Linked DNA regions of Homo sapiens: regions 2, 3, 4 and 5 are each reported to be linked to region 1. The links are microRNA targets in miRTarBase. Many come from high-throughput screens and were not tested one by one. Region 1 holds a microRNA gene; each other region holds the end of a gene's coding sequence. Distances are between the middles of the regions.
The links. The annotated mature microRNA hsa-miR-888-3p reads GACUGACACCUCUUUGGGUGAA and lies in region 1 at 1,237-1,258, shown strand. An mRNA with a match to its seed (bases 2 to 7 or 8) in the 3' UTR can be bound and repressed. Matches are read on the target gene's strand: a 7mer-m8 pairs with bases 2 to 8, a 7mer-A1 pairs with bases 2 to 7 and ends in A, and an 8mer does both.

Region 2: the mRNA of DDHD1 is a reported target of hsa-miR-888-3p. Seed matches in the 3' UTR shown: 8mer at 4,042-4,049.
Region 3: the mRNA of GPR132 is a reported target of hsa-miR-888-3p. Seed matches in the 3' UTR shown: 7mer-m8 at 2,197-2,203.
Region 4: the mRNA of RDH11 is a reported target of hsa-miR-888-3p. Seed matches in the 3' UTR shown: 7mer-A1 at 2,252-2,258.
Region 5: miRTarBase lists PPEF1 as a target of hsa-miR-888-3p. Seed matches in the 3' UTR shown: 7mer-A1 at 1,184-1,190 and 8mer at 1,287-1,294.

Annotation. Positions count from the first base shown.
Region 1 is chrX:145,991,583-145,996,051 of GRCh38, reverse strand. It overlaps MIR888 (microRNA 888), which reads left to right and starts at 1,192; the gene lies at 1,192-1,268. MIR890 (microRNA 890) reads left to right here and starts at 1,701; the gene lies at 1,701-1,777. MIR892C (microRNA 892c) reads left to right here and starts at 3,226; the gene lies at 3,226-3,302.
Region 2 is chr14:53,042,682-53,047,150 of GRCh38, reverse strand. DDHD1 (DDHD domain containing 1) reads left to right here. Exons shown (of 13, transcript NM_001160148.2): 13 at 202-4,469. The coding sequence ends at 383. Among named protein-coding and RNA genes, the nearest start is that of FERMT2, 94 kb to the right of the region's middle.
Region 3 is chr14:105,048,353-105,052,821 of GRCh38, forward strand. It overlaps GPR132 (G protein-coupled receptor 132), which reads right to left. Exons shown (of 4, transcript NM_013345.4): 4 at 1,043-3,750. The coding sequence ends at 2,642. All of the region lies in intron 1 of LOC124903398 (a long non-coding RNA gene), which reads left to right. Among named protein-coding and RNA genes, the nearest start is that of GPR132, 15 kb to the right of the region's middle.
Region 4 is chr14:67,675,579-67,680,047 of GRCh38, forward strand. It overlaps RDH11 (retinol dehydrogenase 11), which reads right to left. Exons shown (of 7, transcript NM_016026.4): 7 at 1,222-2,845. The coding sequence ends at 2,743. It also overlaps a transcript of GPHN not described here. Among named protein-coding and RNA genes, the nearest start is that of VTI1B, 3.2 kb to the left of the region's middle.
Region 5 is chrX:18,826,392-18,830,860 of GRCh38, forward strand. It overlaps PPEF1 (protein phosphatase with EF-hand domain 1), which reads left to right. Exons shown (of 16, transcript NM_001377996.1): 16 at 885-1,526. The coding sequence ends at 1,096. Among named protein-coding and RNA genes, the nearest start is that of PHKA2-AS1, 62 kb to the right of the region's middle.

The DNA.
Region 1 (4,469 bases):
AAATTCTCTAGGAGTGATGAATAAATGAGATCAGGGTTCAGGCATTCTGTTGCGTTTAGGAGAGTGATGAAAGCTGCTGGGAGCAACCATGCGAGACTGGGCAGCACCTCCGTATTCAGCCATAATGTATGCAGTGCCTTTTCTAGAACAGTTCCAGTCACTTGGATTATATGTAACTGGTTCCTTTCTGGGTGGAGTAATATCACCAAACACAACTTTTGGCTGGCCTTTGGACTCCTGATGCAGTGGAGCGTCAGGGGCCTTTCAACTGCCTTCTCGAATGCCAGAAGATCCTAGTTGGTCACGTGGACCTCAGGCATCCTCAAGATGATTTCGATGGTGCACACCAAACAATATGAGCACTTATGTGTTAAGGAAGCAAAAGATAAAAGATCAATATATGTTTTGTAGAAGAGGAGAAATCTGGAAAAAGTGTGTTCACTACTGGTCTTGGTAATTATCTGGCTAAACAAAGCAGATGAGAGGGTACTCACTGAAGGAAGCATGCAAGTTGAAGGGCAATGAGCTGGGTATTCTTTGGGACTTATGAATAAGTTAAGTTCGGGGTTCAGGCGCCATGCTGTGTTGAGGGGAGTGGTGAAAGCTGTAGGGTATAACTGTGCAAGATAGGGCAGTACCTCCACAATCAGCCATGCTGTGTGCAGTGCCCTGCCCAGAAATGTGTCAGTCGCCCAGATTATATGTCACTAGTTCCTTTCCAGGTAGAGTAAGGCACACCAAGTATAAGTTTGTAGTGGCCTTTGGACCCATGATAGTGTAGAGTTGCAAGAGCCTTCAGGTACCTTCCCTGAGACCAGCAGATCTTAGTTGGCCATGTGGACCTCAGGCATCCTCAAGATAAGTTAAGTGGCTTGTCCCTAACAACATGAGCACCTACAGGTTATAGATCAGAAAGGCAAGATGAAGATAATTCCTACTAGAAAAATAGAAAATGGGAACAATCTTGCTCTCTTCTGGTCCTGGCAATCATCCAGATAAACATAGAGTAGGTGAGAGATTCCTCACTTAGGGAGGCATATACCTTGGAGGGCAGTGGGCTAGACATGATCCAGGACTGATGAATAAATAAGTTCAGGGTTCAGACATCATGCTGTGCTCAGAGGAGTGATGGAAGCTACAGGTGGAGAACACGCAAGATGCGACAGCACCTCCACAATTAGCCATGTTGTGGGCAGTGCTCTACTCAAAAAGCTGTCAGTCACTTAGATTACATGTGACTGACACCTCTTTGGGTGAAGGAAGGCTCACCAAGTACACTTTTGTGGTGGTCCTCAGACTGGTGAGGGGGTAGACCTGCAAGCAACTTGAGCTGCCTTCATTGATCCCAGGAGAACCTTGGAAACCACCTGGAATTCAGGCATCGTCAAGATGATCATTTCTAACAACGTGAGCACCTACAAATTAGAGAAGGCAATGACAGAAAAGATAGTTACTTCCTAAAAGGAGAAAACAGGAACAATCTTTTCTTGTCTTGGCCATCATCCAGGTGAACATAAATCAGATAAGAAGGTCGTCACTGAGGCAGGCATGCCAAGTTGGAGGGCAGTGGGCTGGAAATTCTCTAGGAATTAAGATTAAGTTCAGGGTTCAGGCATCCTGCTGTGTTGAGTGGGGTGATGAAAGCTGCAGTGCACGATGGTGGATGATGGGGCAGCACCTCTACAATCAGACATGCTGTGGGAAGTGCCCTACTTGGAAAGGCATCAGTTGCTTAGATTACATGTAACTATTCCCTTTCTGAGTAGAGTAAGTCTTACCAAGTACAAGTTCATGGTGACCTTCGGACAGGTGATGCAGTGGAGTTGCTGGAGGCTTTAGTTGTCTTCAGTAAGGCCGGGAGATCCTAGCTGGCCACCTGAACCTTAGGTGTTCTCAAGGTGATTTCAATGATGCATTTCTAACAATGGAAATACCTATTTTTCAGAGAATAGAAAGATAGAAGAAATGAAGATACTTCCTAATAGAAGAACAGAAAACGAGCTTGTTCTCTCATGGTCCTGGCAACCATCTGGGCAAATATGGAGCAGTGAGCATGTCTCATTGAGTGAGACATGCGTCATGGAGGGCAGCAGACTGGACATTCTCCTGGACGGGGGTTGACCTTGCAAGATGGGCCAGCACCTCCGCTATCAGACATGCTGTGTGCAGTGTCCTACTTAGAAATGTGCCAGTTTCCTAGATTATACATCACTGGTTTCTTCCTTGGTAGTGTAAGGCTCAACAAGTATAAGTTTGTAGTGGCCTTTGGACCCATGATAGGGTGGAGTTTCAAGAGCCTTGAGGTACCTTTCCTGATACCAGGAGACCTTAGTTGGCCATGTGGACCTCAGGCATCGTCGAGATATTCTAAATCGTCTGTCCCTAACAACATGAACACATGCAGGTTATAGATGAGAAAGACAAGATGAAGATAATTCCTACTAGAAAAATAGAATGAGAACAATCTTGCTTTCTCCTGGTCTTGGCGATCACCCAGGTAAACATAGAGCAGGTGAGGGGTTCCTCATTTAGGGAGGCATGTACATTGGAGGGCAGTGGGTTAGACATGATCCAGGACTGTTGAATAAATAAATTCAGGGTTCAGGCATCATGCTGTGCTCAGGAGTGATGGAAGCTACAGGGGGAGAACATGCAAGATGGGACAGCACCCCCACAATTAGCCATGTTGTGGGCAGTGCCCTACTCCAAAAGGGGTCAGTCACTTAGATTAGATGTTTCCAGCTCCTTTCTGGGTAGAGCAAGATTCTCCAGGTACAATTTTGTGATGGCGTTCAGATTGGTGAGGAGACAGACCTGCAAGCACCTTCAACTGCCTTCATTGATCCCAGGAGAGATTTGGAAGCCACCTGGAACTCAGGGATCCTCAAGATGATTTTAATGATCCATTTCTAACAATGTGAGCACCTACAGGTTAGATAAGGTAATAATAGAAGAGATAAAGATACTTCCTAAAAGAAGAAGAGAGAACGGGAACAAGATTTTTTTTCTTCTCGTCTTGGCCATCATCCAGGGAAACATAAATCAAGTGAGAAGGTCTTCATTGAGGCAGGCATGCCAAGTTGGAGGGCAGTGGGCTGGAACTTCTCTAGGACTTAATAAATGTGTTCAGGGCTCAGGCAGCCTGCTGTGTTGAGGGGAGTGATGAAACCTGCAGTGCGTGATGGTGGGTGATGGGGCAGCACCTCCACTATCAGTCGTGCTGTGGGCAGTGCCCTATTCAGAAAGGTGCCAGTCACTTAGATTACATGTCACTGTTTCCTTTCTGAGTGGAGTAGGGCTTACCAAGTACAAGTGTGTGGTGGTCTTCAGACAGGCGATGAGTTGGAGTTGCTGGAGCCCTAAGTTGTCTTCAATGATGCCAGGAGATCCTAGCTGGCCACCTGAACCTCAGACATCCTCTAGATGATTTCAGTGGTTCATTCCTAATAATGAGAATACCTATATGATAGAGAAGAGAAGGATAGAAGACGTGAAGATACTTCCTAATAGAAGAACAGAAAAACAAGCTTGTTCTCTCGTGGTCCTGGCAACCATCTGGGTAAACATGAAGCCAAGTGAGAGTGCTCTTGCTGAGGGAAACATACATGATGGAGGGCAGTGGGCTGGACATTCTCTAGGATGGGGATTCACATTGCACGATGGAGTAGCCCCTCCCCATTCGTCCATAATATGTTCCAGAAAGGTGCCAGTCACTTAGATTATATGTAACTAGTTCCTCTCTGAGTGGACTAAGGCTTACCAAGTACAAGCATATAGTTGCCTGTAGACCCCTGATGTGGAGTTCCAAGGGCCTTGAGCTGCCTTCCCTGATGCCAGGAGATCCTATTTGGCCACATGGACCTCAGGCATCCTCAAGATAATTCTACTGGTGCATTCCTAATGATGTAGACTCCATCATGTTAAAGAAGAAAGTGATAGAAGAGATGAAGATACTTCCTAGTTGAAGAATAGAAAACGGGAACAAGCTTGTTTTCTCCTGGTCTGGGCAATCATCCAGGTAAACATAGAGCAGGTGAGAGGGCACTGAGGGAGACATGCAAGTTGGGGGCTTGTGGGCTGGGCATTATTTTGAACTGATGAATAAATAAGTTCAGGATTCAGGCATCATACCGTGCTCAGAGGAGTGATGAAAGCTGCAGGGTATGAAAATGCAAGATGGGGCAGCACTTCCCCTTTCGACCATGCTGTGTTCAGGGCTATTCCCAGAAAGGTGTCTGATATGGTTTGGCTGTGTCCCCACCCAAATCTCACCTTGAATCATAGTTCCCATAATCCCCATGTGTCATGGGAGGGACCCAGTGGGAGGTAATTGAATCATGGGGGCGGTTACTCCCATGCTGCTGATCTCATGATAGTGAGTTCTCACAAGATCTGATGGTTTTATAAGGGGCTTTCACCCGCTTTGCTCAACACTTCTCATTCCTGCCGCCATGTAAAGAAGGACGTGT
Region 2 (4,469 bases), not on the chromosome of region 1:
AAGAACTTTACAAATAGAATCCTGTACTACTGAGGCTCTTTTGAGTGTTTTTCTCTTAAGATGATAATGGAAAGTCACTTCTTAAAAAAGTGACAGAATCACTTCTATTTAGCTAAATTTTTACTCTCAACTCCAGTAAGTCTATATAGAACATATTTTATTATAATCTGTATTCATTTGTTTAACTTCTTTTCTTTTTAGTGGAGTTGGATCACAGGATTGATTTTGAACTCAGAGAAGGCCTTGTGGAGAGCCGCTATTGGTCAGCTGTCACGTCGCATACTGCCTATTGGTCATCCTTGGATGTTGCCCTTTTTCTTTTAACCTTCATGTATAAACATGAGCACGATGATGATGCAAAACCCAATTTAGATCCAATCTGAACTCTCTTGAAGGACATGAATGGCCTAAAACTGATTTTTTTTTTTTCCGTTAAAATGTGTGTGTCAAGATACGGAGATTTCAGGGTTAAAGTATATTTCAGTTTTCTTTAGGGCAACATATATTTGAATTTAAAAGCACTTTATTTAAAAAAAAAAGAAGTTTTCAGTTCTGAAGAAGTCATTTACAGTTTGCATCATTTTAATTATGAGTCTGACAAAACCTTCTCCAGAGAATCAAGCAAGACCTGGATGTGAAGAAGGTTTGGGTAAACTGCATGTAAAGGCTACAAATCACAATCTGATTCCTCCCAAATATAAAGGCATATGGAACATAATGTATTAACCAAAGTATGTTATAAATCAAAAATGGTCAAGGTTCAGCATATTCTATATGAAGATCACAAGGTGGTATCGTTTTAGATTTCTATGAAGGCTTTCATTTGTACATCCCTTTGAAAAAATATAACAGATTTAAAATGTTTTGAATTTAACTTGTTTAGAAAAACTAATGCTTAAAACAATATTTGAACTACTGTATTTATAATTTATTACCTCTAATTGCTTTATTTCAGTGTATGAGACATTACTGTTTTAATGTTTGCTTTGAACATAATTTAAGAACCAGATTTATTTTCTATAGTGATAAACCCTTTTTTCTCAGAACTCCATCTTTGTACTCTTCAGATGAATATATAGACACTGTGGCATACATTTTTTTTCATTAAAAACTTATGGCTTCATACAACACTAGTTCAATTTTTTAAATAAACTTTTTATTATGTTACATGTACTTCAGAGAAAGCTAAAGTTTCTCTAAACTTGACACGGAGTACTCCATAATGGGTACATTTCATTAGCTTTATTAGAAAACTAGTAAATGCTTTTGAATAGGTAGTATGACAGCTATTTTAAATGTATAAACATTTGTGTGCCAAACAACATATATGAAGGGATGTGATGCCACTAACTAGTGCACATTGTTTCTCAATGTGCCATTGAGACACAAGGCACAGTAAGTCAGGATTCTGAGGCATTGGAAGGGTTTTCTTCAGCTGTAATTGTTTCCACAGTGCTTTTCATCTGAGGGGCTCAAAGTTTAAGAGTGCATTCAATAACCCATGTACTAGCTTCTTGAGGTAAGTAAATAAATCTTGTTCTCATGTTACATGTTAATACACCAAGGCACCAAAACATTTAAAGTGCCATGAATTAGATTACATCAGAAATCAGAAAAGCTTGGATTGAGCTAGTCACCGTGGTTCACGCCTGTAATCCCAACACTTCGGGAGGCCAAGATGGGAGGATCTCTTGAGCCCAGGATTTCAAGACCAGCTTGGGCAACATAGTGAGACCCTCTTCTCTGCAAAAACTGACAAAAATTAGCCACTTGTAGTGGTGTACACCTGTAGTCCCAGCTACTCAAGAGGCTGAGGTGGGAGGATCACCCGAGCCCAGAAGTTCAAAGCTGCAGTGAGCTCTGATCACACCAATGCACTCCAGCCTGGGTGACAGAGCCAGACCCTGTCTCTAAAAAACAAAAAAGAAAAGCTTGGGTTGAAGCCAGGCCATATTCTTTTATATGCTGTTCAATGACTTGATTCACATGTGACCTTTTAGTAGTTTGCAAACAATAATAACAGAAGTTGCAATTCATAATTCAGAGAAATGACCATGAAGCCGGTGTTTCCCTGCTTGATTTCTATGTTCTTGGATTCTCACACAAAAGAGGAGTTACCTAGAGGGGATCAGTAGCCATCCCTGTTGCACACAACCCTCACTTCTGAGTGGTTTCCACTAGGTTCCACTTAAGGTGCTGTCTTTTCTTAACTTGCAAGGAATTGCTTAGCTTCCCAATAATCATTGTCAAACTGGGAGCAAAGTTGGTCAGCTGTATCTCTCACCTCCTCCTTTCTTCATAAGATAGTAGAATCTGTGGCTTACTTGTAGGTTTTACTTAGTGCTTCAGTACTGTTGGCTGTTTTGGCCTTTTGCTGAATTTGCACAACAACATAAAGCACTTCTTTTTAATGTTTAAAAAAAATTCCAAGGCTCCATGACCAAGTATGTGACTCACTAAGAAACCCTTGCTATAAAAGGCTTTTGATGAAATCTTAGCAAAGCTAAATTATCTCTAACTTAGAGATTCCTATGAACTCAGGTCATTTTCATAGCCTGTTTATTTTGTAGGTCTAATTTAGTTCTCAGGAAAATTAAACTCATGCTATATGACTGTATCGTTAAAGGTACTTGAGCGTATGTTGCTGTAGGTGGTATGACACTCAAATGCATAAGAACTTGAAGGGATTTATTCTTAACCACTAGAATATGAAGAGCCCTTTTTACCTGAGAAGAGTGAAATTATGTCAGACCTTTTAATTTGATATCACTGAGTAAAAGGTATGTTCCTATAGCCATAGGAATATGTCTGCTTCCTTTTTTTCATGTTGAGAAAACAGTCAAATTTAACCATTTGGAGTTTATTTGAATTCTTGGAAAGAGCAATATTCAAAACCTTTTCAAAAATAAGATATTCTGGACTACTGGATGGATGTTTTGTTTTCAGTTCATTTTTCATCAGTAGAGATGGTGATTTCGGTTTTGTAGTATCCTTGTTTCTATGTCTGTGCATGTTAACATTGGATGTATTTGTATATACTTAATTAATATACAGACTGTGTGTCATTCTGGCTTGATTAGAAGCTAAGTCAGTTACTGAGTAACATTTTGCAACTTTATTCCAGCAAGTACTAAATCGGCCAAAAAAAGTTTTGTTTTTGATACCATTAAAATTTTATTCTCTATTTTGTGTACATGCTATGATGATTCTCCCAAGTACTGATTAGATCACTGAACTTTAGTTAGCTTCCCAAGAATTATTAACCGTTAGAATAAGACTTAGATTAAATCTTGCTTTATTTTTACTTTAAAATTAGTCTTGCTAAGGCCTTATGTTAGTTCATACTTTCTTTTCAACAGTAATCTTGTTTATAATCCAGTGTTTCTGTGTTTTAGGACATAATTTAAAAATATACTGGATTTTGGCCAGGTGTGGCAGCTCATGCCTGTAATCCCAGCACTTTGGGAGGCCAAGCAGGGAAGATTACTTGAGCCCAAGAGTTGAAAACCAACCTGGACAACATGGTGAAACCCAGACTCTACAAAAAATGCAAAGATTAGCTGGGTGTGTTGGCAGACGCCTGTGGTCCCAGCTACTCAGGAGGCTGAGGTCGGTAGGACTGCATGATTCCGGGAGGTCAAGGCTTCAGTGAGCCAAGATTGCACCACTGCACTCCACCTTGGGTGACAGAGCTGGACACTGTATCCAAAAAAAAAAAGTATGTATTTACACACACACACACACACACACACACACACTGGATGTTCTAATAACTGCTCTTTTGTATGTGAAGCAAGCCTTAGGAATCTTACGTTTTACTTCTTTCTGTTAAACGGCATCTGTTATCTTTTGAAGTACTCACACTGAACATGCTTCATGCTGAATACTCACGCTAAAGGCCTCAGACATGTAAACATTCATCCTTAGTCTCTTTTTTCTCTGTTTTCTCATTGGGAGCTGAAGCATCCTAGTCTGCAGAAAATTTAACACACCATATTCCAGCTTTGCATCACCTAGACAGTAGACAAAAGGAAAAGAAATTGTCAGTACCGTATCACAGCTAGTGCCTCTGTTCATTCCAGTGATAGTACATGAGCCCCTTCCAGTGGAGTCAGATCAAGCCAAAAGATTTTCCTGTAAAGTCTGTAGTAGAAGACAAATTTCTTTTTGATCCATTAGATTGGTATTTCTATCTTCTCAGCTAATTAATGAGTAAGGCATGTGGACAATCGAGAAAACTAATTTGAGTGTATGTATTAAAATTGCTCTTCTAAAAACACGTAAAATATTAAAGATCAAGGCAGAGCAAAAAAGAACGTAGCAATCATATACTAGAAAAAGAAACTAAGTTTTGCTAAACTATGTTTGGGTTAGTTGACCTCTGTAGCTATTCTAAAGTTTTCTATCCCTTATCTGTATTCCGCTGTCATTCCTGTGCCTCAAGCCTCTGCCAGGAATCTGATGGTACT
Region 3 (4,469 bases), not on the chromosome of region 1:
CGGTGGGTGAGACGGCGCCCGGTCCCCAAGGCTGGGATCTGACGTGGGAGCGAGGCTCTTATTTGTTGCTGTGTGGCAGCAAAAGATGAAAAAGTGGACTCTGGCTTCAGAGCTGTGAGAAAACAGTGGTTTTTTTTTTTTTGAGATGGAGTCTCGCTCTGTCTCCCAGGCTGGAGTGCAGTGGCGCGATCTCGGCTCACTGCAAGTTCTGCCTCCTGGGTTCACGCCATTCTCCTGCCTCAGCCTCCCGAGTAGCTGGGACTACAGGCGCCTGCCACCACGCCCGGCTAATTTTTTGTATTTTTAGTAGAGAAGGGGTTTCACTGTGTTAGCCAGGATGGTCTTGATCTCCTGACCTCGTGATCCGCCCGCCTCGGCCTCCCAAAGTGCTGGGATTACAGGCGTGAGCCACCGCGCCCAGCCTGAGTAAACAGTTTTTGGTTGTGTTTTTTTGTTGTTGCTGTTGTTTTGTTTTTTGAGAAGGAATTTTGCTCTTGTTGCCCAGGCTGGAGTGCAATGGCACGATCGCAGCTCACTGCAACCTCTGCCTCCTGGGTTCAAGCGATTCTCCTGTCTCAGCCTCCGAAGTAGCTGGGATTACAGGTGTGCTCCACCACACCCAGATAATTTTTTTGTGTGTGTTTTTAGTAGAGACGGGGTTTCATCATGTTGGCCAGGCTAGTCTTGAACTCCTGACCTCAGGTGATCTGCCCGCCTTGGCCTCCCAAAGTGCTGGGATTATAGGCATGAGCCATGGTGCCCAGCCCGGTTTGTTGTTTTAAGCCACCAACTTGTGGGAACTGGTTATAGCAGCCACAGGAAAGCCCCTGCTGGACATCGTTATGATCCCTTTTGCCCCAGCCCTGAATATTCCAGACTGGTCCAGAACCTCAGCCCCAACTTTTCAAGTCCCTGGTCACGGCTGTCCTCTGGAAGCCTAGGGGCACACTCCTCTCAAGGCAGGAGAAATGTTAACTGTGAAGGTTAAATTGGAGAAATGTTAACTGTGAAGGTTAAATTGGAGAAATGTTAACTGTGAAGGTTAAATTGCATTATTTCTTTTATTTTTATGATTTTTTTAATACCAAAAAAAAGAGACAAGATTTTGCCATGTTGCCGAGGCTGGTCTCAAACTCCTGACCTCAACTGATCCTCCCGTCTCGGCCTCCCAAAGTGCTGGGATGACAGGCGTGAGCACTGCCCTGCCTTGTGCTTTTATTTCTAAACACATTTTCCTAATGTATTTTTCTGATGACTCTCAAGGGGAGGATGGCTGTTTTGGCTGGGTGTGGTGGTGCACACCTGTAGTCCCAGCTACTCAGGAGGCTGAGCGGGGAGGATCGCTTGAGCCCAGGAGTTTGAGGCTGCAGTGAGCTATGATGGTGCCACTGTTCTCCAGCCCAGGCAACAGAGCAAGGCCCTGTCTCTAAAAAAATAAATATTAAAAACAAAAACAAAAACAAAACAAAAACAAGGAAGAGCAACTGCATAGCTGCCTGACAAAACGAGAGCGTGGCTCAGCCCCACGGCCCTGCGCGGCCTCCCTGGAAGCCCCTGTGCTGTGCCGGGCACTGGGCTCCCCATGCAGGTGCTGCGTCTGCCCGGCTCTGTGCTCTGAGTGCATGCGATGTGCCCGAGGTGTCGGGGCAGGGAGGAGGATTGATCTCGATGGTGACCCAGTGAGGTAGGTGTCATTGGCCCCATTTTACAGATAGGGAAACCAGGGCATCAGTGTGACCTGGTCTAGGCAAGGCCTTTGCGGCAGACCCAGATCTGACTCAGCCCCGAGGGTGCAGGGAGCTGGCTTTCTCCGCCAGACAAGCAGGCCAACTGCTGCACTCCCCCCTCAGTAAGGGGCTAGGGGTGGGGACCCCACCCTGTACGGACCCCTCACCAGCATCTCCCCGAGGATGCCGCTGGGGACTCCTGGCACCCCTTGCCTCTGCTGTGGCTGTGTCACACCTGTCCTGCCAACTGTTGTTCTGGGCGTGGACATTTGGGGCTCCCCGTTGAGGACGCCTGGGCTGCGCTCTGGGAGCCAGCAGCTGGCCACCCTGCCCCACGGTTCCCTAGAGGCCCTCCAGCTCAGCACAGACCCAACCCCAGATGAGGGCGCCTGCCCCCTTGGAGGTGGTAGGCTGCCCTATGCCCTCCTGGGCGCTGCCACAGTGCTGGGTGACCTCCAGCATGGTGCTCACTGACATTCTGAGGCAGGAGCCCAGAGGGCCCACAATGCACCACCGCATCCAGGCAACGCTTGCAGAAATGCTCCGCAAATAAAGTCATCGCCACTGATGCGAACAGGGCAGCCACCAGGTACCTCTGCCAGCAGGCGTGCTACCTGCCCACAGCCAAGGGAGCCAGCCAGGCAGGCTGCTGATGAAGAGGCCCCACTGCCTGCCACATGCTCTCTGGGCTCCCGGAAGCCTGGAGGTGTCGCTCCTCCCCTTGGCATGCAGCCACCTTCCATGTGGGAAAGCCTGGGGCCAGTGGTCACGGAGGGAGTGGCTTCAGGAACGAGAAATTGGTAGTTTGTCTTCCAGAGGGGACATGGGCACTGTGGCTGGTGGGCTCAGTGCACAGGAACCACATTGCTGGCCCCAGGACCCCCAACCTGCCATCCCCCTGCCACACAGTGGGCTCAGCAGGACTCCTCAATCAGCCTCTTTGCAGGGCATGGTGACCCTGGTGGGTGCACGGGCCTGGAGAAGGTGTAGTGGTCTGCAAGGGCCACGGGCGACTGCAGCTCCTCGGTGTCCCTGCTGTGGGTGAGCCTGGTGACGTCTGTCTTCATGGACCACTCTTTCCACCCCTTATGGATTCTGGACACTTCTTGGCGGGAATGGTCCGTGGCCAGCACGTAGATAATGGGGTCAGCCACGCCGTTCACCGTGGACAGGCACAGAAACACCACAGAGGCTGTGTACAGCCTTTCCTCCAAGCCGCACATGGCGTTCCTGTCTCCTCTGTAGTAGGAAAAGGCAGCGGCTTTGACGAGGAGAACCAGGTGGTACGGGGCGAAGCAGACTAGGAAGATGACAACCACCGCGATGGCCGAGTGCTTCACCTTGGCCTTCTGGGCAGCGCTTAAGCCCATGCTCTGCTTGATGCTCCTGAAAATCCGGTGGTTGGTGAAGGCGATGATGGAGAGAGGGATGGCAAAGCCAACGGTGAACCTGGCGTAGTAGTACCCGGCAATCCTGCTGTCCATCTGCAGCATGTCAAAGCAGGTCTCCTTGTCTTCCGTCTGGAACACCGGGTAGTGAACGATCCCGACGAGGATGAAGATGCAGGCGGAGATGAGGATGGCGGTCCTCCGGCGGCGGCGGCCCCGACTCTCCAGCGCGTACACCACGGCCACGAAGCGGTCGCAGGAGATGCAGCACAGGAAGAGGATGCTGACGTAGATGTTGCAGAAGAAGATGTAGGCGGTCACCTTGCAGGCCAGCAGGCCTAGGGTCCAGCGGTGCTGGTTGCGGATATAGATGACCCAGAGTGGCAGCGTGCCTGTGTACAGCAGCTCGCAGAGTGCCAGGCAGAGCAGGTAGACGGCCAGCACGTTGCCCTGCAGTACCTGCAGCAGCGCCAGCCACGCAGTCAGGCAGTTGGCCGGCACCCCCAGCGTGCACACCGCGCTGTACACCACGACCAGGACTATCCTGCTCTCTTCGAAGGACACGTTGTTGCAGGTCTTGGCGGAGAGGCCCAGGGAGGCCCACGGGGCAGTGGTGGTCACTGGGGTGGCGTTTCCTGTGGGACAGAGACAAGAGTGAGGACGGGAGTCCCTGGAAACCACCTGGGAGAGACTCTACTGTGGGAAGAAAGGATAGAAGCTTTGTGGTAGCTCAGACTAGACACACGCAGGTGTTTAAAACATTTCCAAATTGATTTTTTAGAGCAATTATTAGATAGTGGATCTCCAACCTAGCAGCGTCATGGACAAAGAATGCAGGCTGGGCAATACTGAATCATTTTTCTTTTTTCTTTTTTTTGAAATGGAGTTTTGCTCTTGTGGCCCAGGTTGGAGTGCAGTGGCACAACCTCGGCTCACTGCAACCTCTGCCTCCTGGGTTCAGGCAATTCTCCTGCCTCAGCCTCCCAAGTAGCCAGGATTACAGGCACGTGCCACCATGCCTGGCTAATTTTTGTATTTTAGTAGAGACGGGGTTTCACCATGTTGGCCAGGCTGGTCTCGAATTCCTGATCTCAGGTGATCCGCCTGCATCAGCTTCCCAAAGTGCTGGGATTACAGGCGTGAGCCATTGTGTCTGGGCAATGCTGAGTCTTTGTAACTCACTGAGGTTTTCAAAAATGTTGCTTCTGGCCCGGCATGGTGGCTCACACCTGTAATCCCAGCATTTTGGGAGGCTGAGGCAGGCAGATCACTTGAGGTCAGGCGTTTGAGACCAGCCTGGCCAACATGGAGAAACCCTGTCTCTACTAAAAATTTAAAACAAATAGTTGGGCGT
Region 4 (4,469 bases), not on the chromosome of region 1:
ATTCTCCTCCTAGGCTGCCTCGTGCACTTGTTGACAACAGGTGTTTGTCAAGCGTAGGCATTGCGAGGGATCTGGGCATGTTGGTGAATAAAACATTTAATCTCTGCTCCAGGGGAATTTATAATCTGGTGTGGAAGGTGGGCCTGGCTTCATTAGGTCTCATCTGCCACTAAGTGTCACGTGTTAAAAATTACAAGGTCCCTTCTTGCACTCCATGGGTATAAATTCCTGTCTTCACGTCGGGCATGGTGGCTCACGCGTCATCCCAGCACTTTGGGAGGCCGAGGCGGGCGGATCACTTCAGGTCAAGAGTTCAAGACCAGCCTGGCCAACATGGTGAAACCCCCGTCTCTGCTAAAAACACAAAAATTAGCCAAGCGTGGTGGTGGGCGCCTGTAACCCCAGCTACTCGGGAGGCTGAGGCAGGAGAATCGCCTGAACCCGGGAGGCAGTGGTTGCAGTGAGCTGAGATCGTGCCACCACACTCCAGCCTGGGTGACAGAGAAGACCCTATCTCAAAAAATTAAAATAAATTATTATTTTCACCGATTTCACGGTTTGCTCAAGGTGTCTGTTCTCAAATGTTTGCTTGGGAGTTCAATTTTAAACTGCCTACAAATATTAAAAGATGTATGACTGCTCAGGAGAAAATGCTTTGCTAATTTGTATCTCCTGGGCCCTCATTTTTATTAGATCAAGTTCATTGGCTGTTGATTCAACACACTTTGGTTAAGCTCTTAATATGCACTGAGCATAGACATGACCAAGTCTGAGGATAGTCAGTATACTGTGTAAGTCCCACAGCACAATGCTGGGACTTGTCACAGTACAGAAATAAGGGGCAGGTGCAAAAAAAGGATCAATAGCCTGGGGCCGGGTGCTGCGGCTCACACCTGTACCCCAGCACTTTGGGAGGCCAAGGTGGGAGGATCGCTTGAGCCCAGAGTTTGAGGCCAGCCTGGGCAACAAAGCAAGACGCTGTCTCTAATTAAAAAGAAAGGAAAAAAAAATGGCCCGGGATGATCAAGAAATGTGGAAAAAGTGTCTGTGAAGAGTGTCAAAAAAGGTTAAGTAGGAAATGGTGAATGAACAATTAGATTATCACACAACCTAAATTAATAGCATGTGGATTGAGATTACACTGTAGCTAGACTCTGGAACAAATTATTCTTTAGAATGAGAAATCATTGCACAACCATAATAATGAACAGTGTTTTCTTCTTTTGACTGTAATCAAACTTTTAATTCTTAGTTTTTATTCTGGTAAATGAAAACAAAAAATAATCAAAAAGAATTTTTATTTGTCATTGACAGTTCAATATAAATTAAGTAAAACATTAATTCATTTATTCTGCACTATTATCAGAATTTTTCTAATTTTTCCGTAAAATGACCATTTCTAAACATATAGCTTAATGGTCAAAACAAGTGCAATAAAAGATTAATTTACAAGTATCAGAAGTGAAGACTGTGGTCCTATAACTCTTTCCCCCACCAAAGTTAAAATATAATTGTCATTCCAGGAAATCAAAATCTTTTAGAATAGCACACTCCAAACAAGTGATGGGAACACTACTAATTCCTTAGACTTCCTTTGGCAGCATTACTTTTGATAAGAAGTCTCCAAATAAAATACAAAATTTTGGCACAGACATTTTAATCTTGTCAAGACAATGTAAGGAAATGCCCCAAAATATTATTAAATTGACCATAATTACCAATATCAGTCCCTAAGATAATTTTTCTGAATGAAGAATTGTTTTTTTTGTTTGTTTGTTTTTAGGATTTTTTTTTTTTTTTTTTTTTTTTTTTTTGCCACACTGGTTTTTGTTAAGACCTCATCAGTCCTGGGTGCTTGCCCTCAATTCCTCCATAGCTATGTTAGCATATTTAATATCTTTTGCTATTAATCCTTAACTAGTTAATCCTTAAAGGGCTAGTTAATCCTTAACTAGTCCCTTCATTTTGTGCATTATCTTCCAGTATTCTCCTTCTCTTTTTTTACTTCTTCCCTGCTACCCATGTGCTCTTGGTGGGTAGTTACCAACATATACAGAATCTGCTTCCCTTTGCAGCATTTCATTTGCATAAAGACTGGATGGCACTGGTTTGCTCCATCTCTGATTATTGTGGCTGTTTTGAACTTTGTGAAAATACTCCCTTGGCACACATAAACAGGAAGACACACAAAGATATACACAATTTTTAGTAGAGGTGGGGTTTCACCATGTTGGCCAGGCTGGTCTTGAACTACTGACCTCCGGTGATCCACCATGCCTGGGCAAGCCCTGCTCCTGAGCCAGTCTTTGTTATTCATGTTAAGCTGAGGTTGCAGTGTGGCCCTCTTGAAGTGAAGACTGGTTGGTTGGGAGGAACTGAATTGTGAACAAAGAAGCTAGTTCAAATTTGCATAAATCATCCCTGCTATAGCTTAGATTCTCCTAGGTAGTAGTTTCTTTCAGAAGGAAAATGAGCTGTGCAGGTCATATGAGGGTCTTCTTATCCTATTATGATATCTCTAGTAACTCTGGCAGTAACAGAAGCAAAGTAAATCTGGACATGACAGACATTTAGACGAATCTGGCAGTACACTGAGTTTTAACTGGACACCAAGCAGGCAAGGCTGGAAGGTTTTGCTCTCTTTGTGCTAAAGGTTTTGAAAACCTTGAAGGAGAATCATTTTGACAAGAAGTACTGTGTAGTCTGCTGCAGTCTTCTCTTGGGTCCAACTGGCACTGCCTGTTAGTCTATTGGGAGGCCCAGCAGGTCACAACTGACGTCCCACAGCCGCCTTGCTATAGTCTCATTACGAGCTTGGGCAGAGACCCATGCCACATGACAGTCACTGGAAGGTAAAGAGAAAGGTATGAAGCACAGTGTTAAGAATGAAGTCTGCCATCTGCCAGGGATAAGGAATATGACATAAAAACAACTAGGGATCACATGTTCTCCATGTACTTCACAGGGCCAGTGTTTGTCCTTATCTCTTCATTCTCCAGTCCTTAGCCAGAGAAAATGTAATTACCATTTTAGATCTCCTCGCTAGACCACCTCTCATCAGAATGCTTTGTTTGATATATAATGCATACATTTGGTCTTTATATTCCCCTATTTATATAATTTAATATTAGTGCCTGCCTGACACCCATGTATATCCATCTTCTTCAAGTAAGTCCATAAGGCCCATTCTACAGAGCCTTGGACAATGTCATATAGCTGAGATCCTGCTATTCACATTGGTCAGAGATGCCTGGAGTAGTAAAAAAAAAAAAGAAATGCTTATTTCTGGACTCCTTGAAGTTATACTGTTAGTAAACTCATATGAGAAGTAAAGCCAGCTTCGAAAACAACAAAAGGAAAAGGCGACACAGAAAAGAAATGGTAAAACCAAGGTACGAGGTGTCTTGGTCCATTTTGTGGTACTGTAACAGAATACGACAAACTGGGTAACTATAATGAGCATACAGAAACTGGCTTATGATTATGGAAGCTGAGAAGTCCAAGATCAAGGGGCTGGCATCTGATGAAGGCCTTCTTGCTGTGTAATAACAAGATGGAAGGCATGACATGGGCAAGAGAGGGAAGGGGACACAAGTCATCCTTTAATAAGGAACCACTCCCAAGATAATGAACCCGTTCCAGAGATAATGGCATTAAACCATTCATGAGGGCTGCCCTTGTGACCTAATTTACCTCTTAAAGGCCCTGCCTCTCTATACTGTTGTATTGAGGCTTAAGTTTCCAACATATGAACCTTGAGGGACACATTCAAATCATAGCAAAGTGTTTCATATACCCTCTCTTCATTGCTGTAATTAATTCCAAGTTTTTTTTTTTTTTTTGGAGGCGGAGTCTCACTCTGTCGCCCAGGCTGGAGTGCAGTGATGCGATCTCAGCTCACTGCAACCTCCGCCTCCCAGGTTTGAGCAATTCTCCTGCCTCAGCCTCCAGAGTAGCTGGGATTATAGGCGCCTGCCACCATGACTGGCTAATTTTTGTATTTTTAGTAGAGACAGGGTTTTGCCATGTTGGCCAGGCTGGTCTCGAACTCCTGACCTCAAGTGATCCACCTGCCTCGGCCTCCCAAAGTGCTGGGATTACAGGCATGAGCCACTGCACCCAGCCTGTAATTCCAAGTTTTATAATTTTATAATTCCGATGCAGAAAATTTTCTTAAGGACAATTCTGACTCATTTTTGTATTCTCTGGATCTGGTATACATCTGGTAAGCATTCAGTCAAAGTTTTAAAAAAAATGATTGAATGTATTACAATCTTTAGTCATGTGAGGAAACAATTTTTAAAAGTATACTATTTCAAGAAAATTGCTTCCTCAGTATCTAAGCAAATTCTGAAGGTGAAAGAGTTGACAAGTCTGAATTAACTATATATGCAAACTCTTAACACTATGTCAAGTAAGACAGTGGGATTCAAAGTGTGCACCACAAACCAGCAGCAGGAGCATCAACT
Region 5 (4,469 bases), 130 Mb from region 1:
AAGGGCTATGAAAAGTCATTTTCTGCTTTTTTTTTTTTTTTTTTTTTTTTTTTTGCGACAGAGTTTTGCTCTTGTTGCCCAGGCTGGAGTGCAATGGCGGGATCTCAGCTCACCACAACCTCTGCCTCCCGGGTTCAAGCAATTCTCCTGCCTCAGCCTCCTGAGTAGCTGGGATTACAGGCATGCGCCACCACACCCTGATAATTTTTATTTTTAGTAGAGATGGGGTTCTCCATGTTGGTCAGGCTGGTCTCGAACTCCCGACCTCAGATGACCTGCCCACCTCAGCCTCCCAAAGTGCTGGGATTACAGGCGTGAGCCACTGCGCCCGGCCTTCTGCCTTTAGCTTTGATGCACAATTACTTATTTTCAAATTTTTAAAAACTCATCAGATAATCCCCTAATGCAGAGACCTTTGAACACCGAAAAAAAAAAAAAATCAATGATCAACACATTAAAGTAAATGATTGCCTGTGAAAAAGGCAGCACCATTGTTTGTAATCCTCTTATTGACTCCCACCGTATCTTCTCCCTCTGCTTTGATGTCATCCTCCTCTCTGCCCTCCTTCCATGCACCTCACCTTTCTATTTTAGGTCTTGTAATTTCTATACCACATTTAGTCCCATAGTCCACAACCCCGTCCCCATTTCTTCACTGTTTGCTCATTCTGGCTTTAGAATAAGTTCAGGATCCCTTGGTAGTTGAAAGTGAGATATTGTTTCTTACATTTATGATCTTACTCTTCCATATCCTTCAGTATCTTCATGATTAGGCAGTTTAGTGAGTTTCTAACTGGGGCTATTTAATCAGTGTGGGTTCCCCAACCCTTGCCTTAGGTGGGTCTTAAAATGAACACTCACAACCTTCTCCTATATTCTTTTAGGCCTGATCTCCGTGGAAGAATTTCGTGCCATGTGGAAACTTTTTAGTTCTCACTACAATGTTCACATTGATGATTCCCAAGTCAATAAGCTTGCCAACATAATGGACTTGAACAAAGATGGAAGCATTGACTTTAATGAGTTTTTAAAGGCTTTCTATGTAGTGCATAGATATGAAGACTTGATGAAACCTGATGTCACCAACCTTGGCTAAACACAAATGAGAGCTTCCCTCAGGCTCCCTGAAACAGCTAGGCCCAAATCACAAGTACAGTCCTTTCCAACACCCCTGAAATTCATAGTCAGTAGCAGAGAAAAGCAGATCCCAATTCATCCCACAAACAGATGCATAGTATGGGTTTTGGAAGTCCCTAGCAAGCTGTTATTGGTAAGATTAGGTTAAATGTCAGTAATAGGATTTGGTTTCAGCATTAGTACCTACATATTGCCAGTGAGAAACTGGGTTGGACCTAGTGGTGTTGTCGTGAGTGCCACCTAACCAGGAGGCCAGAGCGGTTTGAAAACATCCTGAAAGGAACTCATACAGCACAAGAGAAAACTACTAAGCTTGACATCTGTGAGTGACTGAGGGAGACAGGAGGAATACCAGGTTATTCATGGAATAAAGTCTTTCCATCTTTAAACTGTGATCTTCTTTGGAGATTTTATAAGCCAGTGATCCTCAATTAAGGGATCCACCCTTCAGGGATGAGAACCATATTGGATTCTTGGGGGGAATCTGTGGGAGTGTATTGTTTGAAAAAGCGTATTTGTGTGTGTGTGTATGTTGGAGATACAAAGTGAATACACTTGGATTGAGCCCTATAATTAATATGGTTTGACACCTTCATTGGTAAGATGGGGCCTTGCTTATGCATACTGTTAAATGAAAATTGTAGGAGCCCATTGTTTTGGACTAAGCTCCTTCACCAGGCCCCAACAGACTAGACTAAAAGTCAAAATGGGGTCACCCATGCTGAGGTCCTGTGTCATCTCCGGCCAGCTTCAATTGGCATAATAATGAAGTTCCCTCTGCCTTACAACAAAAATAACCTGATGTTAACCAATCAATTATTTGTTTATTGTTATTTCCCTGCTGTCTTACAAGGAAGGTAACTTTGAAACAACCAGTCTGCTTTTTGTCCTTTGGTTCTGCTTTCTTCAGTTTTTCTCTGTCTATAAAACCAACCTCCTCTGCTCAGCTTATCAGAACACTTTATTTTTACAGAAGGAAGTGTTGCCTGATTCTAGAATCACAAACAAAGCCAGTTAAGATCTTTAAATGTTATCTTTTGACCAATCTGGTGACCATAAAAGGGACCATAAGGAGACTACTAATTACTCTTAAGGGCCTCTTGAGGAATGCAGGAGACGTGCTGCTGACCCCTTTCAGGTCCCCTGTCTTCCTCACAGAGTCCTAGGTGTTGTAAATAAGTTCCTTTTGTGCCAGACTCTGCTGTTTTTGCATTGAGACCCCTGAATTTTTTGGCCTTCAAATCCAAGGTAAATGCCAAGAGTGAGCATTTGACTTTGGAGTACTGCTATGATTTGAATATGGTGTGTCCCCTCTGAAACTCATGTTAAAATTTTATTGCCATTTTGGCCATTTTGGGAGGTGGGGTCTTTAAGAGGGATTAGTGCCTTTCTCATGGGAGTAAGTTAGCAATTAAAGAAGTTCAGCCCCCTTTTCTCTGGTGTGTGAGTGCTCTCTCTCCCCTGCTCCTTTCACTTTTCCACCATGCTATAAAACAGCATGAGGGCCTCACTGGATGCAGCCACCCAATCTTGGACTTCCCAGCCTCCAGAACCATGAGCTAAATAAACCTCCATTCTTTATAAATTACCCAGTTGCAGGTTTTCTGTTATAGCAACACAAAACAGACTAAAACAAATACCAAGGGTTTGTGCCATAAGAGGACACATGGCTTTTGGGTTTGCAGTGGATGATGAGTCACCGGCAGGGGCTGCAGTTTCAAAGGTAACTGACAGTAGTTGCAGTAACTGACTGTTACTGTAGGAGTGAGCCTGGCTTTCAGAATTCACAGCTATCTATCCACTTTATTTCTTCTCTTCTTGTGTGCTGAGGTAAGAAAAATCATTAGCTAAGTTAAAGGGATTTCAGAGCCAAAACCAACTTTGCTCTGAGAGACCCAAGTTCCAACATAAAAATAGGATCCTTAATTTCTAAAGAACTGAGTACTCTTGGCTTTAGGCTGCCCCTTTGTTAGTGGTTCTTTCCCTCCCATGGACAGCTATAGGTTTCCTATTTGTCATGTTTTTGTGTTCTGAGAACTTGGTCAACCAACCAAAAGGTTGGGAGTTGCCAAGAATATGGCTAGACAGAAATGTGGGTTGCACCTTATTTGTGACTAGCATACTGACTGTTATGTCTAAATCTTTCTTTCTTTTGGCTGTCTTTGGTATTCTGGATTTTGATCTAGAAAGATTAATAAGAAACATAATGGACACCCCAAGTTCTAATGCATGCAAATATAGTCCCCCTTTAGGGACTCCAGACAGCTATGTATTCAAACATTATGGTCCATTCTTGTGCACGTTTTTAAACCTATGGGCAGATTATACCAAAGACTTGGCCAGGCACGGTGGTTCACGCCTGTAATCCCAGCACTGTGGGAGGCCGAGACAGGTGGATCACTTGAGGTTAAGAGTTTGAGACCAGCCTGACCAACATGGTGAAACCCTGTCTCTACTAAAAATACAAAATTAGCCCAACATGGTGGTGCACACCTGTAATCCCAGGTACTCGGGAGGCTGAGGCAGGAGAATCACTTGAACCCAGGAGGCAGAGGTTGCAGTGAGCCAAGGTCACACCATTGCACTCCAGCCTGGGCAACAAGAGTGAAACTCCATCTCAAAAAAAACAAAAACAAAAAAAGATTATACCAAGGACCATTTGGAGTTCCAGTGGTCTTTATGTGGACTGTTCAAGCCTCCCAAGGTTGTTTTTATTCTTTTATTTTTTTTATTTTTATTTTTTGAGAGGGAGTCTCGCCCTGTCTCCCAGGCTGGAGTGCAATGGTGCAATCTCGGCTCACTGCAACCTCTGCCTCCCGGGTTCAAGCAATTCTCCTGCCTCAGCTTCCCGAGTAGCTAGGATTACAGGCGCGCACCACCACGCCTGGCTGATTTGCATCTTTAGTAGAGACGGAGTTTCACCATGTTGGCCAGGCTGGTCTCGAACTCCTGACCTCGTGATCCACTCGCCTCAGCCTCCCAAACTGCTGGGATTACAGGCGTGAGCCACCACGCCCAACCTCTTTTTATTCTTAGAACTAAATTAGCAGACTGTAGCTATAGGGTTAAAGTCTGAATGGGATGTATATAATTGATTAGCATGTAGAGGCTTCTAAGCTCTCTTTCTCTCTGTCCTCCCCTGCCTACTTAGAATCTGCTGACATTTTTGCTTGGTTACCTGCCCAGGATTCCAAAATAGCCTTTTTAAAAGCTTCATTGCAAAGAGCTAATGAAAGGCTAGAAATGGAAGATATCCCCCACACCAAGGATGGTAAAACTGATGTAACTCCTACTGCTCCTCTCTATCCTACTTTGCCTGAATATTTAGTCTA